Regions from separate parts of the Homo sapiens genome. Here regions 1 and 3 are each linked to region 2. The links come from fine-mapping of genetic effects on plasma protein levels. A gene starts in region 2. Each other region holds a variant in brackets. All regions are shown on one strand. Distances are from middle to middle. Region 1 overlaps SPATA1 (spermatogenesis associated 1). Region 2 holds the start of CTBS (chitobiase). Region 3 overlaps SPATA1 (spermatogenesis associated 1).

What was found. PIP is the posterior inclusion probability: the model's chance that the variant is causal. Protein levels are from antibody-based Olink assays in UK Biobank. Linkage for the fine-mapping came from a reference panel and not from the study's own genotypes, which makes the PIPs less certain.
Region 1: its variant is fine-mapped to the plasma level of the CTBS protein (UK Biobank, PIP above 0.99).
Region 3: its variant is fine-mapped to the plasma level of the CTBS protein (UK Biobank, PIP above 0.99).

Annotation. Positions count from the first base shown.
Region 1 is chr1:84,550,632-84,556,166 of GRCh38, forward strand. SPATA1 (spermatogenesis associated 1) reads left to right here. Exons shown (of 14, transcript NM_001397487.1): 13 at 5,279-5,348. CTBS (chitobiase) reads right to left here. Exons shown (of 7, transcript NM_004388.3): 7 at 1-4,568. The coding sequence ends at 4,368. Among named protein-coding and RNA genes, the nearest start is that of CTBS, 21 kb to the right of the region's middle. The variant C/A (reference allele first, on the strand shown) is at 1,287.
Region 2 is chr1:84,572,093-84,577,689 of GRCh38, forward strand. CTBS (chitobiase) reads right to left here and starts at 2,348. Exons shown (of 7, transcript NM_004388.3): 1 at 2,147-2,348. The coding sequence starts at 2,323. RefSeq lists enhancers at 938-987, 1,701-1,800, 1,911-2,200 and a silencer at 2,361-2,480.
Region 3 is chr1:84,531,257-84,536,853 of GRCh38, forward strand. It overlaps SPATA1 (spermatogenesis associated 1), which reads left to right. Exons shown (of 14, transcript NM_001397487.1): 7 at 1,604-1,718; 8 at 2,453-2,510. Among named protein-coding and RNA genes, the nearest start is that of GNG5, 27 kb to the left of the region's middle. The variant A/G (reference allele first, on the strand shown) is at 2,933.

The DNA.
Region 1 (5,535 bases), 21 kb before region 2:
ATTGACTGTATTAAAATTGTTACCTTAACAGTAAAGAGCATAGGTGAAAAAAAAAATGCAGGAAGAAAAACTAAACCTGTGAAAAGATACATGATATAATAAAGCCAAAGTAAAATTTAGTAAAATTTTACTAGGAAGAATTAAAGGAAAAGGAACCTGTGAGTCAATATATTCTCAAAAAAAATTTTAAGTAGTTTTCCTGTATTAGAATTATTAAGTCTGATAAACCACTGAGCTCTCCTCTGAACTGACATTTAATTTTTTATGGGTAATCGTTTCATTTTTTCTGGTTATTTTCATATGTATTCTATTATTTAAATATGAATAATGTGTCTTCTACTAGATGTTAAGTTTCCTTCCTGGCAGAGACTATGCCTTAGTTAACTTTGTTTCTCCCATGGGACCTTTTGTATAGCAGATGCTTAGTAGAGGCTTCTGGGCATGCTCTATTTGGTGAGAATTGTGTACAACTAATTACATCATAGAAATTATCTGTGAAGTACATATGTATTAAAAAGCTTTTTTGTTGAACAGAAAACAGAAGATTATACATTTTCATACAAGTACCCACAGCAAGGCAGGAAAATGAGAACGATAATTATATGAATGCTCTCATTTCTTTATCAGAAACAGCTTTATGACACAGAATAATGACTGCATTCTAGAATTAGCTCTTTTTAAAAAAATTTTAAAAAGAAAAAAGAAAATCAGTACTGTCCTCGGTTTCAGATAAAAATAAAAATAAATAAAATTTAAAAATAAAAAAATAGAATTAGCACTGTCCAACAGAACTTATGTGATGATAGAAATGTTCTATGCCTGCACTGTCAGATTGGTACCCACTAGCCACCTATTGATATTGAGCACTTGAAATGTAGTTTGTGTGACTGAGGAACTGAATTTTAAATTTTATTTAATTTTAGTTAATTTAAGTTTAGTAGTTACATATGGCAACTGGCTTCTACTATACTGGACAGTGCAGTTCTAGATTCTTTTTACAAGCAGCATTCTCGAGGCTAAATAAGCCCTGGTTTGGCACTGAGAAGCTTAAAACTTAAAATAGAAAAGGAAAAGAGCAGAGGATAATTTTTAACAAAATATCAGTTAAATATGCACTCAAAAAATAATTTGTTCAATGAAGGAAAACTGTCTATTCAATATATGGAGATAAAGCCAATATGTAAACTTGTACACTTAATAATTGGGTAGGTAGGAAGGAGTAATAAAAATGCCCCCAGAGGCTTGGATTATGACTCCCCTCATGCTGTTTTCTTCTGGAAAGCATG[C/A]ACATTACTTGTAATCTTTGTATATTTTAACATTACAAATGTCACTCATGGTTTGAACTCAAATTAGAATTGTTCATACAAAAACAGTAAGGACAAGTGGAATAAGAGGAAAAAAAGAGAACAAAGTTTTCAGCTTATAGGCTGGGGGGAAAAAATCCTGTATTTAACCATAGTGCCTGATTGACACATAACAGACATTATTTAAGAAGTTTTATTGATTTCTGAATGATCTCCCCAAAACAGCACTACCTATAAGATTCAGAACTAAGGGACAAAAAAAACCCAGCCTGAGTCTCTTGCAACCATATTTATTCAAGATAGTATAGCATAAGTAGTGCTTCTCAAAGTTTAATATATCATCTGAGGATCCTGTTTAAAAATGCAGGATCTGACTCAGTAGGTCTGGGTGCAGCCTGAGATTCTTCCTACCTAACAAGCTCCCAACTGATGCTAATGCTGCTGTCCACAGACAACACTTGGAATAGTAAGGGCTCTGGTACCAGGTGGTTTGAATTTGAATCCTGGCTGTACCCACTTCACTTACTAGTTTTTTATCTTGAGCAAGTTACTTAGCCTCTAAAGGTCTCCATTTCAACTGTAAAATGGGGATAAATACTAGTATCTGATTCTGTAAAATTTTTGAAAAAAAAATAAGAGACTAATACACTTAGAAGAGTGCTTGCCACAGAGTAAACACTATATTTCTGAAATATCTATTCCGTTCCTAAGGGCTAGGAATTAAGGGTTTTTTTTGTATTTTGTTTTCTTGTTGTTTTCACTATTTTCTTTACACATTGAGAACAACAGGTTTTGAAGTTTAAGCAAAACATAAAATTCTTTCTCACTCTAGTTTTTAGAACAGTTCAATTGTATTGTCCCTATCTACTCATAAACAAGGTTACCTTATAGCATATCTCACCAGTAGATAAGCATGCTTATTAAACAGCATTCATAATCTACACATTTACTGTAGTAATCCAGTGGGAGTTGAAAGCACTGAAGCCAAATGAGAGAAGACAGTTAAAGCGGTTACAAAAACCCTGTTTACATGACAACTATGATGTACTTTTAGAAGGGTATGATGAAGTTCATTTTTGAAAAGTAATTCTTTTTATAGATGAGAAAACAAGCAGTTTCAGATTTACGAACATTGAAAACTGAACTGGCACAGAAAAAAAAAATAATACATCTCTACAATCTCAATTAGGTATGTTAATTTAAAACTTTTATTTGTAAAAAAATTTAAATATGTATTTGAACAGATTTGTTTAACCATTATTCTCCTTGGCAATGTTTTATAAAAAGCACAAGGTTTCTCTTTCTCCACTTTCCATGTGGGTATTACAAAATGTTTCAGGAAATATTAGATGTAATATAAAGCAAAATGATGAATGGTTATTTTTAACATTCCAAGTCCTTTACATATTATTTTACAGTGCTAATTTTATAATTTTCATTTTAATAATTTAATAATAAAATTCAATAATAATTTATTTAACAATTTAAGAGCTAATATAACTAAAATCTATTTGCAAAGAATAAATGTATATTAATGAATACTAATATATTTGCATGAAAATACAGACTTCATTTAACTTAATTTGTTCATTATATCTTAATTAAAAGAAATCTGGAAATATAAAAGAATGGGGGTATTGAAGTTGCATTCTGAGCTATGATAGAGATAAGCATCTAAGAATTTAAATTTTTTAATTCATTTATTTTAGAAATATGAAGACAACAGTGATCCAACATATACTATGAAAATGGTTTTTACTCTGTCACAAACAATTGTGTAAATAGGAAATGTAATATTCTCATAACAGATGGTTCAATCATCATGTATTCCAATTTACAGGGGCAAAATGTGCAGGGAAGCCAGGATTTATGTAAATCTAGAGTTCAAAGATACAGATTTTTAATCTGTAATTAGGAACTAATAAGGGCAGCACAATGTTGTTCTTAATTCCCTGGAGAAAGAAAACAGACTTTATTACATTTAGAAAACTTATTTGTATAAAATTGATCTTTTAGAAAGAGAACTAGTTGAGAAGCTAATCAGTGTCTTTAGATCATTAAAAGCACAATGCAGCTCATGCCTGTAATCCCAGCTCTTTAGGAAGCCAAGGCAGGAGGAGTGCTTGAGCCCAGGAGTTGGAGACCCATCTGGACAACATAGCGAGACCCTGTCTCTACAAAAAATAAAAATAAAAAAGATACATTGCAGATGTAGAAAGAAAAATTTAACCATGTAAGCAAGCTAGCCAAGAAATAAATTATATATGTCCATAAATGAAGAAATGAATAATTAGAAGTGTGACAGTGAACAGAATCAAGTTCAACTGCAAGTTATTCCTATTATTAAAAATTTTACAAATGAGCCTCATAAAAATAATGTAGTTGGAAAATATTAGGTAGTTCTAACTTACCAATTCAAAATATTACTGTTACATTCTTCTATTTTGTGAATACATTTAATCTTCTGGATTCTTTTTAATTCTCACTCACTGTCCAAAGATTTAGTTCAAGTACCTCAGAGAACATAAATACTATATGGAGTCAGGAAGCAGAAAAATTATTTTCATCAGTTTGATGAACCTAAAGGGGAGACACTACATTGTAGGTTTTAAATTTAAGATTTATTGGAGGGTTGGGGGAAAAGTATAGCACAAACTGCTTTTCAAAGACTAGGTTTTTAAAAACTCTAAGCAAACAATTTCCACTTCAGATTATACATATTTTAAAAATCAGCATTGATTCGTGAGCATATATTTTACTATAATGAAGGGAAATATGGCATAATAAAATTCTGAAAGCAATTTTTCCCAATTAAATTATAGTGTTGAAACATCTAATAGAGGAATATTTAATAGGTAAGTTGACTTGCTTCTTGCCTTTATGTTCCTGGATACTGAGGACATTCGTGTGTATTTTTCAAATTCAAACAATCAAAACATTTATTTATTCTTTTTTTTTAGTATACGGATAACAAAAGTATATAGCAACATAATAAAAATGCAAGAAACTAGATCTGTTGATACAGATCATCTTTCTAACTCTTAATGGTTTGACAAAAGATGTTCATCTCTGTAACAGCTTTGGCTTTAAGACTTCCCACATTTCTTCAGTTTGCTGTTTGGCTACAGCATCTCCAGAGTAGTCAAGACAGTTTGCATTCCACATGCCAATGCCCCGTAAGCGATAGTTTTGTATATATGTTGCCTTTAAAGAAATACTCTGAGGGTTATCATACCATACTTGATGAAAGTGGCCAGCAGGATCCTATATAAATAAATTAAAATGGAGATTTTAAAGTATTTAGTACAATTCAGCACCACAGGAAAGGGAAAAATAAAAGAAGTATACAGTACAGTAAGAGGGAAAAAAGTTTCCTAAATCCAATTATTCAAAAAGGATACAATGAAATAAAAATTTTAGGGCATAACACTTTCCTATTCTATAATTCCATGGTTCTATATTTGATACAAATGGTCCCTGACTTACAATGGTTCAACTTACAATTTTTAGACTTTACGATGGATTTATCAGGGTATTTCGTTCATTTTCAACTTATCATATGTTTATGGGTTTATTAGGACACAATACAATCATAAATCAAGGAACATCTGTACTTTCTAGGTATTATTGCTTATGGCACTTTTAACAATGGCAAAGATTACAGAAACGAGCCTCCTAATAGATTCTACTTGAGCTCCTTTTCATGTCCTAAGATTCTTTCCTTGCCCTTAGCCAGTGATTATTAGCCAAGGCGTACATCTGAATCACTTGCGGAGCTTTTAAAATACAGATTCCTGGGTCCCACACCACATGAAACCTATTGAATCAGAATTCTCCAGGGTTAATGCTAGGGCATATATTTGTTTTGTGTTTTAATGTTTCATTAGATAATGCTGGTATGCAACCAAAGTTAAGGGGAATCAATGCTCTGGTCCTCTAAAACCAGCTTATGTGCTTTTTTGTATTCTCTGTAGTTGCTAGAAGTGTGCCTGGCTAGGAGGTCTACAGAAGATTTTGTTTATGATGAATCAGCCAAGTCAAAAGGTAATGGCAATGGAGGAGAAAAGTACATCCTTTTCTAGGTCTTACAGATACATTCTCAGAGTCTGTTAGGTCTGCACTTTATTGGTGACTTAACATACACCTGATTATGAGCCATAAATTAGATTCTGGTCTTATGTTCACCTTCCACCCTAAAAAGTCCTTCTGCCCAGAATCAACTACCTCTATC
Region 2 (5,597 bases):
ATCAATTAGAGTTTTAATTCAGGGGATATGCATTACAAAAGAGATCACTGGGTCCTTGTGAGGGGAATGAATGAGGGAGAGACAGTGGGGATAGCAGCTGTAAAAGTTAAACCAGGCATTTCTTAATTTTTTTTAATTTTTTTTAACTTTTCAGAATTAATTATGCATAACTCATTTTTTCTGCTAAGCAATTGCCTACTGAAATAATAAAAATTCATAATGTGAAATTAAGTGGCCCATTGTTTTCTGACTCATATTTCTATCAAAACTTCTATTTTAGTTCTGATAATTAAGATTCTATTTGTTTAAAAAATACTAAGAGCCTGTGATATAACAGATATCCTTAAAAAAAAAAAAAGCTGGGTGAACTAATTGAAAATATAAGGGGAAAATGCCATGTAGTCTAGTTTTTGTGTTTGAAAAACATAGAAAACGCCAGTAGAGAAAAAGACCATTTACCATGAAGATACAAATAAGCATAATTTTGCTTCTTTGAATAGTTGGTTTTCAAAGTGCCCACAGATATTGCCTAACCCACTAAGTATTGGGTACTACAGTAAATCTTTCAGGTTTTTTTTTTTTCTCTTTTTTGAGACATAGTCTTGCTCTGTCGCCCAGGCTGGAGTGCAGTGGCGTGATCTTGGCTAACTGCAACCTTCCGCCTCCCGCTCCGCCTCCCAGGTTCAAGCGGTTCTCCTGCCTCAGCCTCCCAAGTAGTTCGGATTACATGTGCCCGCCACCACGCCCAGCTAATTTTTGTATTTTTAGTAGAGACGGGGTTTCACCATGTTGGCCAGGCTGTTCTCGAATTCCTGACCTCAAGTGATCCACCCACCTTGGCCTCACAAAGTGCTTCTCAATCTCAAAAAGAGATTGAGAAAATTAAGAAATGTCTGGTTGAACTTTTACAGCTACTGTCCCCACTGCCTCTACCACCGCGCTGGGCCTCAGATTGTATAAAACATTTTAATTGGGAGGCCATTATGCTGAAACAGCTCCAACTGCCTTGGATTTCCTGCTTAAGCAAACTCCAGCCCAAGGTCAACAGTGAAAGGAAACTTAAGCTTAACCTATCAGAAACTGCCAACTAACCTCTAACTAGTAATTTTCCACCAAGTCATAGCTAAATAAGGCAAACAGTCATAGCCAACCAAGTAATTATTTTCCTTTGCTTCCCTGTTCGGCCTATAAAAGCCCATGCTACTAAAGCAGACCTCTCTGAACCCCTTCTGGTTTAAGTACTGCCGATTCATAAGTTGTTCTTTGCTCAAATAAAAAAGGTTATCCTACTTTGTCTGAAGTCTTTCTTTTAATAAGATGTTAGGTTTCCACACTAGGCAGGTTCTCCATAAACACTTTCACCATTTTTATTTCTTCTCCTAAGTCATGTATATATACTTTTTTACTGGCATCTAAGTGTTCTGCCTCAGATTAATGTACTAGATTAAGAACTAGGAATCATGCCTATTTCTACAAAAGAATCGTTCTTTGAATTAAGCCTTTGGACCTTCCTGATGTCATCCAATTCCTGCTTTCAGTCATCGAAGTGGGCAGTCAGGTGGTTTTAATATTGCTCCAGAAGGTGTTTGATTAAAGTTGCCAGAAGCCTTACAAATTGTTATGTAGATAGAAGGAAAATGTACTGAAAGCTATTTTTTTTACCACTCTTCATGGGTGGTTTTGAGGTACTTTAAAGGAAAGGGCTAGCAGGTATAGAAAACTAAAGGTAAGCAAAATACTCTGCATTCTAATGTACTGTTGGAGTGCTGAGATTCTTTCAAACGAAATCCTCGTTCCTTGGAAACATAAATGGATTATCCTACCTTGTTTGCTTTTTACACCCAGAGTGCTTCCGCAGAGGCACAGCAGGGGAATGAAAGGAGCTTGCCTTAGGAGGCAGATCTGGTTTGAACTCTCGCCTGCCTACGCAGGCACTTACAGGCTGTGAGGCCTGAGGAGTTACTCAACTTCTCTGAGCCCGAGCTTCCTCATCTATAAATTGAAGGATCCGTAAACAGGAAGGCCCTCATCGAGTGGTCAAAGCTGGTTTCGGCGCCCACGGCACCTCTCCTTAGGGCTCCGTTCTACCCTAACTTCTCTTCGTGCCCTGAAGCCCAGACCTAGAGGAGCAGAGGAAGGCGCTGACCTCGAAATCTGGATGGTGGCGAATCGGGCGGCAGAGCTCAGGCTCCGGGCATGGGCAGTCGGTCCCGGCCGCGAGCCGCAGCGCCAGCAGCGCCAGCAGCGCCAGCAGCGCTAGACCCGGGACGCCGCTCGGCGGGCTAGAGACGAGGCGCCAGCGTCGAAGCTGCGGCCGGGACATAGCAGCAGGTCTAGCGGGCCGGAGTGGGTTCCTACCGCCTGGGTGGGCGGGGCCTGCTGCGCGTCGGGGCAGGAAGGGGCGGGGAGAGTCGGGAAGGGCGGGGAGGGGCGGGAGGGGCGGGGCTCCGGGGCGGGCGTGGGAGGTCGGGCTTCGAGCGTCCCCGGGCGCTACAGGTGGGTGAAGTTAAGTGGCTGCTGGAGCGTCTCGGGGGACAGCCAGTGTCTGCGGCGCCGAGAGGGCCGTTCGTGGACTCAAATGGGTATCACCCCTACCGTTTATAGTCCTCCCAATAGTCTGCATCTCGTTTTGTCGTGGCTGGTCGTGTACTCCTTGTGGAGTCTGAAGGTACAAGGGGATCCCCAAAATGGAGAAGTGGGTGTCTTTGGAAGGGCCTACTGAGTAACATGGTTGGAGTGGCCAAAAGACTTTGTTTTTCTTTTGCTACTCAAAAGAAAGCTGGAATACCAAAAATTTTTACTTACGGATATCAGGTCTTAGTTAAGATCGTGGTTTGAATTCAAGCATCTAATTTTGCCTACTCTCCTGTTAAAAATCAAGTTTAACAACCTAAACACAAGGACAAAGAGATAACAGCAACAAAATGTTGGAAGCTGGAGAGCACAAGTATGAGTATGAGAGGTAAATCGGAAAAGGGGGAGATTAGTCAAAGGCTGCTCAAGGACTCTGATCGCTAGATCCTTTTTCCAGCTTCATGTCTCTGGGCAGCTGCCCCTCTTTCCCACCACGGGCTCCCACCCCGGCTGAATTCCCTGAAGGGGATAAATTCTCTGCTGAGTGGGTATTCCACCTAAAACGGAGAATAAGTGGCTTTATGCCTACTGAAAACTGAAACCCCTCGCTATCTGATTAACCTAAGAGGCTGAGCAAAGATACTGACATCGGGTTTTCTGGACAAATCATACACCCAGATCACCCTACAGTGAAATTCAAAGTTAAAAGCACCAGCTATCTACTTGGAGCTTCCTCTCTTTGTACTTTTTAATTTTTACTTTTAATCATGGACAGCAACCAAAAAAATCCAATAATGTAGAAAGAAGGGACCCAAACAACAGACAAAGGAATATGGAGGAAGCAGATGCTGCAGGGAGAACACTTTTAAAAATTCTCATAATAGCCCCAGAAAAATAAGAGAAGATGAAGCCACAACAGGGTGCAATAAAAGGGGTAGGGGATTTTTAAAAGTTAATAGAAATAAGAAAGAAGTGAAAAAACTATTAGTAGAAGATAACACTGAGGAATGTAGAGCAAAAACTCTGAAAGATAAGAAAATTGGAAAACGCAGTACAGAGGGGATGAAATAAATAATTCTTAAAGGTGCTTGAGAAGCAGCGTAGTACAAATAAGAAGAAATAAGTAATTTGGGCTGGGCACAGTGGTTCATGCTTGTAATCCCGGCACTGTGGGAGGCCGAGGTGGGCAGATCACTTGAGCTCAGGAGTTTGAGACCAGCCTGGCCAACATTGTGAAACCCCATCTCTACTAAAAATACAAAAATTATCTGGGCATGGTGGCAGACACCTGTAATCCCAGCTACTCGGAAGGCTGAGGCAGGAGAATCGCTTGAACCTGGGAGGTGGAGGTTGCAGAGATCACACCACTGCACTCCAGCCTCAGCAACAGAGTGAGACTCTGTCTCCAAAAAAAAAAAAAAAAAAGAAAAGAAAAGAAATAAGTAATTATCAAGGCTCCAGGACTGAAGAACACGCGTTTTCAGAATGAAAAGCTAGGCCAGGCACTGTGGCTCACACCTGCAATTGCATAACTTTGGCAGGCCAAGGCAGGAGGATTACTTGAGGGCAGGAGTTTGAGACCAGCCTGGGGAACATAGACCCTGTCTCTACAAAAAATAAAAAGCAAAAAATTAGCCCTGTGTGCCAGTGCGGTGGTAAAAGCTTGTAGTCCCAGCTGCTCGGGAGGCTGAGATGAGAGGATTGCTTGAAGCCGGGAGGTTGAGGCTGAAGTGAACTATGATCATGCCACTGCACTCCAGCCTGGGTGACAAAACAAGATCCTGTCTCAAAAAAAAAAAAAGTACAATTGAACCTCCATAACCAGAGGTTCCACATCCATGGTTTTAACCAATGTCAGATAACAGTATTTAAAAATAACAAATAATACAGCAATTTAAAAATGCAAATAAAAATACGGCAAGAGCACTGTCAACATAGCATTACATCGTATTATTATAATTAATCTAGAGATTATTTGAAGTACAGGAGGATGTGCATAGATTATGCCATTTTATATAAGGGACTTGAGCATCCATGGATTTTGGTATCTGGGAGTCCTGGAACCAATCCCTCATGATACTGAAATGTAACTATGTTTTTAACATGAATGGTTGCACTGAATCAAGTTTTCAAGGAAAAGAGCCTTCTGACTCATAGAATCAGACTGTATTCTGTGACACAGAAGAAAACACATATCTACCTGTGTTAGGGATCCCTAAGATCACCTCCAGGTTCAGTGATGCACTAAAAGAACTCATAGGACTCAGTTGTACTCACAGTTAAGATTTATTACAGCAGAAGAATATGAAGCAAAAGAGCAAAGGGAAAAAGTGCACAGGAAGAAGACAGGAGGAGGCCAAGCACAAGCATCACGTTGTAACATGTGTGAAGGGCTGTCTGCCATGGAAGCTCATTAGAGACTCAGGGAACAGCAGGAACACTCCCAAATCCACCTACAGGCCAACCTTCAGGAAGCAGGCCTTTCTAAAGATCGCAGTCTTAGGCCTGTTACGGTAACTCTTTTCTGCATACTAACCAAATGAGGAATTCCTACATATTTGTATTGAATTTTATATTGGTGCTGTACATTCTATGGGCTTTGACAAATGTATAATGATGTGTATCCAGCATTATAGTATCATACAGAATAGTTTCACTGCCCTCAAAATTATCTGTGCTCTACCTATTCATTCCTCTCTCCTTGCTAACCACTGGCATCCACAGATTTTTACACTGTCTCCATAGTTTTGCCTTTTCCAGAATGTCACATAGTTGGAATCTTACAGTATATAGCTTTTCAGATTGGCTTCCTTCACTTAGTAATACGCATTTATGGTTCCTCCATGTCCCTTCATGGCTTGATTGCTCATTTCTTTTTAGCACTGAATAATACTTCATTGTTGGGACGTACTACAGTTAATCCAATCCTGCAGCATCTGCTTCCTCCATATTCCTTTGTCTGTTGTTTGGGTCCCTTCCTTCTACATTATTGGATTTTCTTGGTTGCTGTCCATGATTAAAAG
Region 3 (5,597 bases), 41 kb before region 2:
GATTCAAGCTATTCTCCTGCCCCAGCCTCCCGAGTAGCTGGGATTACAGGCACGTGCCACCACACCTGGCTAATTTTTATATTTTTAGTAGAGACAGGGTTTTACCATGTTGGCCAGGCTGATCTTGAACTTCTGACCTCAAGTGATCCACCCGCCTCGGCCTCCCAAAGTCCTGGGATTACAGACATGAGCCGCCATACCCAGCCTCTGTTTGTTGTTCTTAAGTGACAATTTCAATACCAGGTGGGAAATAAATTGTAGCAGCCAAACAAAAATCAGTATGGGCTCCAGGTTGCACAATAGTTTGGCAAGTCTTTTTTTTTTTTTTTTTTTTTGAGACAGGGTCTTGCTCTGATGCCCAGGCTGGAGAACAGCAGGGTGATCATGGCTCACTACAGCCTCAACCTTCCAGGATCAAGACATCCTCCCACCCTAGTCTCCCAAGTAGCTGGGAACACAGGCATGCACCACCATGCCTGGCTAATTTATTTTATTTTTCTAGAGATATTGCCCAGGCTGGTCTTGAACTACTGGGCTCAAGCTATCCTCCTGCCCAGCCTCCCACAGTGCTGGGTTTACAGGCATAAGCCACCATGCCCAGCAACAACTCTTGTAAAATGACTTTTCAAATATTAATTTGGCTCACTTATTCTTTTATGAATTAAAAAAATTGATTTCTCCAAGGGAAAAAAATCTGAATTAATACTGCCAGGTTCGTGTATCTTTTGTTTATATAGACCATGTGGAACATTAGTGTTAATATTTCAAAGATGGATTGTTTAGTTTTCCTATATTGAGAAATTTTGTTAAAATGAAGGGAGATTTTATCAATGAAAATGTATGTGAAATAAAAAATGACATTTTATGTTCTGTATTTATACCAGCATTTTCCAGAGAAGGTTCCTCAGAGCACTGTTTCAAAAACTGCTTTGGCAAACGGTTTGTAAAGACAATTAAGGCCGAACGCAGTGGCTTATGCCTGTAATTTCAGCACTTTGGGAGGCCAAGGTGGGCATATCACCTGAGGTCAGGAGTTCAAGACAAGCCTTGCCAACCTGGTGAAACCCTGTCTATACTAAAAATACAAAAATTCGCTGGGCGTGGTAGCACATGCCTGTAATCCCAGCTACTTGGGAGGCTGAGGCAGGAGAATCGCTTGAACCTGGGAGGCAGAGGCTACAGTGAACTGAGATTGCACCACTGCACTCCAGCCTGGGCGACAGAGCAAGTCTCTATCTCAAAAAAAAAAAATTATATTTCAGGAAACCCCCAACTTACCTACCCCGCTCTTGCAGATTTAGTTGTACATGGAGACAAACCCTTTAATAGGAGTGAATGTGTGTGTAGGGGGTTGTGTTGCTGTTTGATGTTGCTTAATTCAACATTTCCCAAGCTGAATTAACCAAATAATTTTCTTTTCACATAAACAAATATTTCATGAAATTCACTTTGGAAACTATTGACTTATATCTATATAGGAAAGTTCATGGGGATTCTGAAATCTACGATAAGATTATAGTGTACATGTATAAAAACAAACGTTTATTTTACTATTTTCCTAACATTCTGAACTTTATTTGCTGTGGATGACCATCAACATCAGCTGGGGGAAAAGCCACTGCAGAAAAAAGCCAAATTGCAAAAAATCAAATTGGAAATTCTGAGTTGCCAGGATCATTGGAAGATTCAAATAATGATTGCTTTGGCACTAAAAAAAGGTAATTAGTATAGATGCTGATTCCACATGCCATAATCTAAACAATAAGAAAAAGAGTAAGATATTCAGAGTATTGTTATAAAGACTTCTACTTAAAGATATGAGTGAAATTAGTGATATTTTAATTAAAATTACCTTGATTCAGATCTTTACTGTTTTTTGCTAACATTCCTCTCCAAGATAATAAGGGATAATTCATAACTTAAATTTATTTCTATTGTAGTACTTTTATCATTGGGACAACTTGATGACAGAAAAATTTCTGTCTTTGTTTCCCTTCATTAGAACTAATTATCCTGCCTCTCTTAAGTTCTTGGTTATAGGTAAACTAATCAATATGCTTGATTTTCACACTGGTATCATTTTATTCAAAATTATAGTACTTAGACGAGTTTTACACAGTCTTTTGAAATTAAGGGTTCTTATAAACAGTTATTCACAAAAGAACAATAAACAAATATGTTTCTAAAATTTCAAGTAATTTTATCTTGCTATAGATATTGAACTAGAATTTAGCTATAATATAATAAAATATGATTTTATTACTCATACTAAATGTAGCTTTACATGGATTACTAATGAGTCTGAAAGAACATATGATAATGGTCTCAGGCTGACTTTGAAAATTTTCAATATTTGTGTTTACAGAGCATCAAATAAAATACATAAAATATGAAAAGCTAATATTCATGGGATCATGTTTTAATGACTTTCAAACCTGTCATTTCCTTTAAGTCAGTGTCTTTGGGAAAATGAAGATGATACAGCTATCAGTAGAAGACAGGACAATCAGGTACTATTTAAAATTTTTTGTTTAAACATGGTATTGCAACATCATAATATTTTTACTAAGATTAAACTGAAACTGCAGATTAAAATGTCTAAGTTTTCCAGAAACATACTTCTAATATCAATATAATCAATAGTAGTCCAATTTTTCTGTTTTTATAAATAAGGTAACAATATGCCCAAATGAGAAGGGGGAAAAGTTATCCACCAACACCTTTTTGGATTATCTTCTCAAATTTTATTACTAGTTTTAAAGGTACATCAAACTATACTTAACTAGCAGCTTTCATAGCTAATTTGTAATTTAATATACTAATACCTGTACTTGATTAACTTGTCTCTTTAGAACAGAATTATATAGTGTGTTAAGAAGCAGTATAGTAGTAAATTGTTTATGTTATAGTTACTAGCTGTGTGACCTTGGAT[A/G]TGTTACCCAATTTGAATTGCACTGGTTTAAACGAGTTAATGAACACTATTCACATTACCAGTTTATTCTCAAGAAATGATGGAAAGACTAGGAGAATTTTGCACATATTTGCAGGATGAATTTAGGACAGTCTTAAGAATGATAACAATACTAATTTAAATAATAGCTATCCATGAGTATCAACTACCAGGCATTATTCTAAGTATTTTACACATACTGACTCATTTAATCCCCATAAAGGAAACTCCATGAGGTAGGTTATGGTTATCATTCCCCTTTTACAGATGAGGAAACTGAGGCACAGAGAGGTTCCATGGCTTTCCCAGGTGATATTATATAGTTAGTAAGTACTAGAGCTGGGCTTAGATCCTAAATAGTGTAGACTGGCTTCAGAGTTCAGTCTTAACCATTTTAATAACTACCTACCTAAATAATACTACTAATAACATAGCAAAAACCAGTTAGATAGCATTTACTGAGCCAATCACTATTCTAAATGCTTTATGTATGTTAATTCATTTAATTCAACAACTATTTGTGGAGGTACTATTATCTCTATTTTCAGATGAGAAAACGAAAACACAGAAAGTTACATTAATTCTTCCACGGTTATGTCTTTCATACCCATTGGACAAAATTCCAACCATAGTTAATAAATCACAAACTTCAAATGAGTCTTTAATTGTGCCAACAAATATACTACATTTTCTTGGTCCATTACTATTCTTCTAGACAACTCTGTCATACCTTCTCCTCAGACAATCAAGACCTCCTTTCTCTTGCATTCTCAGTGATAATTTTTGTTAAATAGAGGTAATTTGAAGAGAACCACGAATCTCAAAATTTTATGTACAGAATGAGGTTGTGGTTGTGGTTCAGTTGAGATCCTCAGATACCCACCTCCTACACCATTTGTTAAGACTTTATTTTTCCTATTGCATTATTCAAAACTCAGTTGACTCTATAAGATCTAGGACAACTTCTAGCTTCCCTTTCTGCTCAATGATTTTTTTTAATCCTTACGCCAATACCACATTATCTTCATTACTGAGGCTTTATAAGTAGTTATTGTTATCAGATAGCGTAAGATTTCCAAGTCAATTTTTTTTCAAGATCATTTTGGTGATTCTAGATTCTTTGTGTTTTCATATACGTTTTAGAATCAGCTTGTCAATTTCTTACCAAAAGACTACTGGAATTTTGAGTGAAATCACCGTGAATCTGTCAATCAATTTGGGAGGAAAACTTATATCCTAACTATACTTAATCTTCTAATCTGTGAACACAATATATTTCTCTATTTATGTCACTAGTTTCTTTCAGCAGTGTCTGTGGTTTTAGTGTATTGCTCTTATATCTTAATATTACATTTATTTTTAGATATTTGGTATTTTTGAAGCTTCTATAGAATGGTATTTTAAAATTTTTATTTTCTAATTGTTGCTAGTTTATAGAAATGTAATTGATTTTTATACATTGAACTCATCTATTGAGATTTTGCTAAATTCAATTAGTTCTATCAGGTTTTTTTTTTGTAGATTCTTTAGGACTTTCTACGTACATATTCATGTCATCTGTGAATAACAATAGTTTTACTCTTTCTTTCTATTTTTGTTATGAATTAAGTGTTTTTTCCTCCAGCTTCCTGAGTGTGAGAAGTTGTAATGGCAATAATAATGATGGCTTCTTGCTTTCAGCGTAGTTCTGGTGATGGCCTCAACAATGGTAATTTCACTAATGGAAACATCATTTTAGGAGACCAGACCTAGAACCTGCTCCTCCAGTCTTTCTGATACACTTAATTTCCTTTATTACATTTCTTCCTGCTTAAACCTGCACTGAACTGATTCAGTATTTGGTACAGAAAGTGTGACATGGGCCAAAAACTTTTACAAATGAGAATCTCAGACTGGTTATTGCAAAAGAACTGCAATATTTTGTTAATTCATGCTAGTAGAAACTTAGAAAAATATTATTGGAAATAGATTCAGAGCAGGAATGAAAGAATATAACTTTAAATTGGCTCAAGTTTAATAATATGGATACACTTATCAGAGATTCTGGATTTAATGTGCTAGCTCCAGCAACTGTGAGTGGTAAAAAACATTTTGCTAAATTGAGTGAGGCTGACAGAAACCTGGACAATATGGTGGTTCATACTGAGTAAATTTAGAATGCCAAGAATTTCTTGTTAAAAAGTAGAGCAAGAAATCCGAAGACTTGGGGATATAAAAATGTTAAGAGGAGATTTATATCCACTTTTTTTTCTTTTGAGACGGAGTCTCGCTCTGTCGCCCAGGCTGGAGTGCAGTGGCGCTATGTCCGCTCACTGCAAGCTCCGCCCCCCGGGTGCATGCCATTCTCCTGCCTCAGCCTCCCGAGTAGTTGGGACTACAGGTGCCCGCCACCACGCCCGGCTAATTTTTTTGTATTTTTAGTACAGACGGTGTTTCACCGTGTTAGCCAGGATGGTCTTGATCTCCTGACCTCGTGATCCGCCCGCCTCGGCCTCCCAAAGTGCTGGGATTACAGGCATGAGCCACCGCACCCGGCCCACTTAATTCTTTAACCAGACATTGGGGAAATATATTGGAAAGGCAACCCCAGAATTCTTTTAAAAAACCTTATAGTGGCTGTTTTGTGTCACATGGAATGAAGATAGGA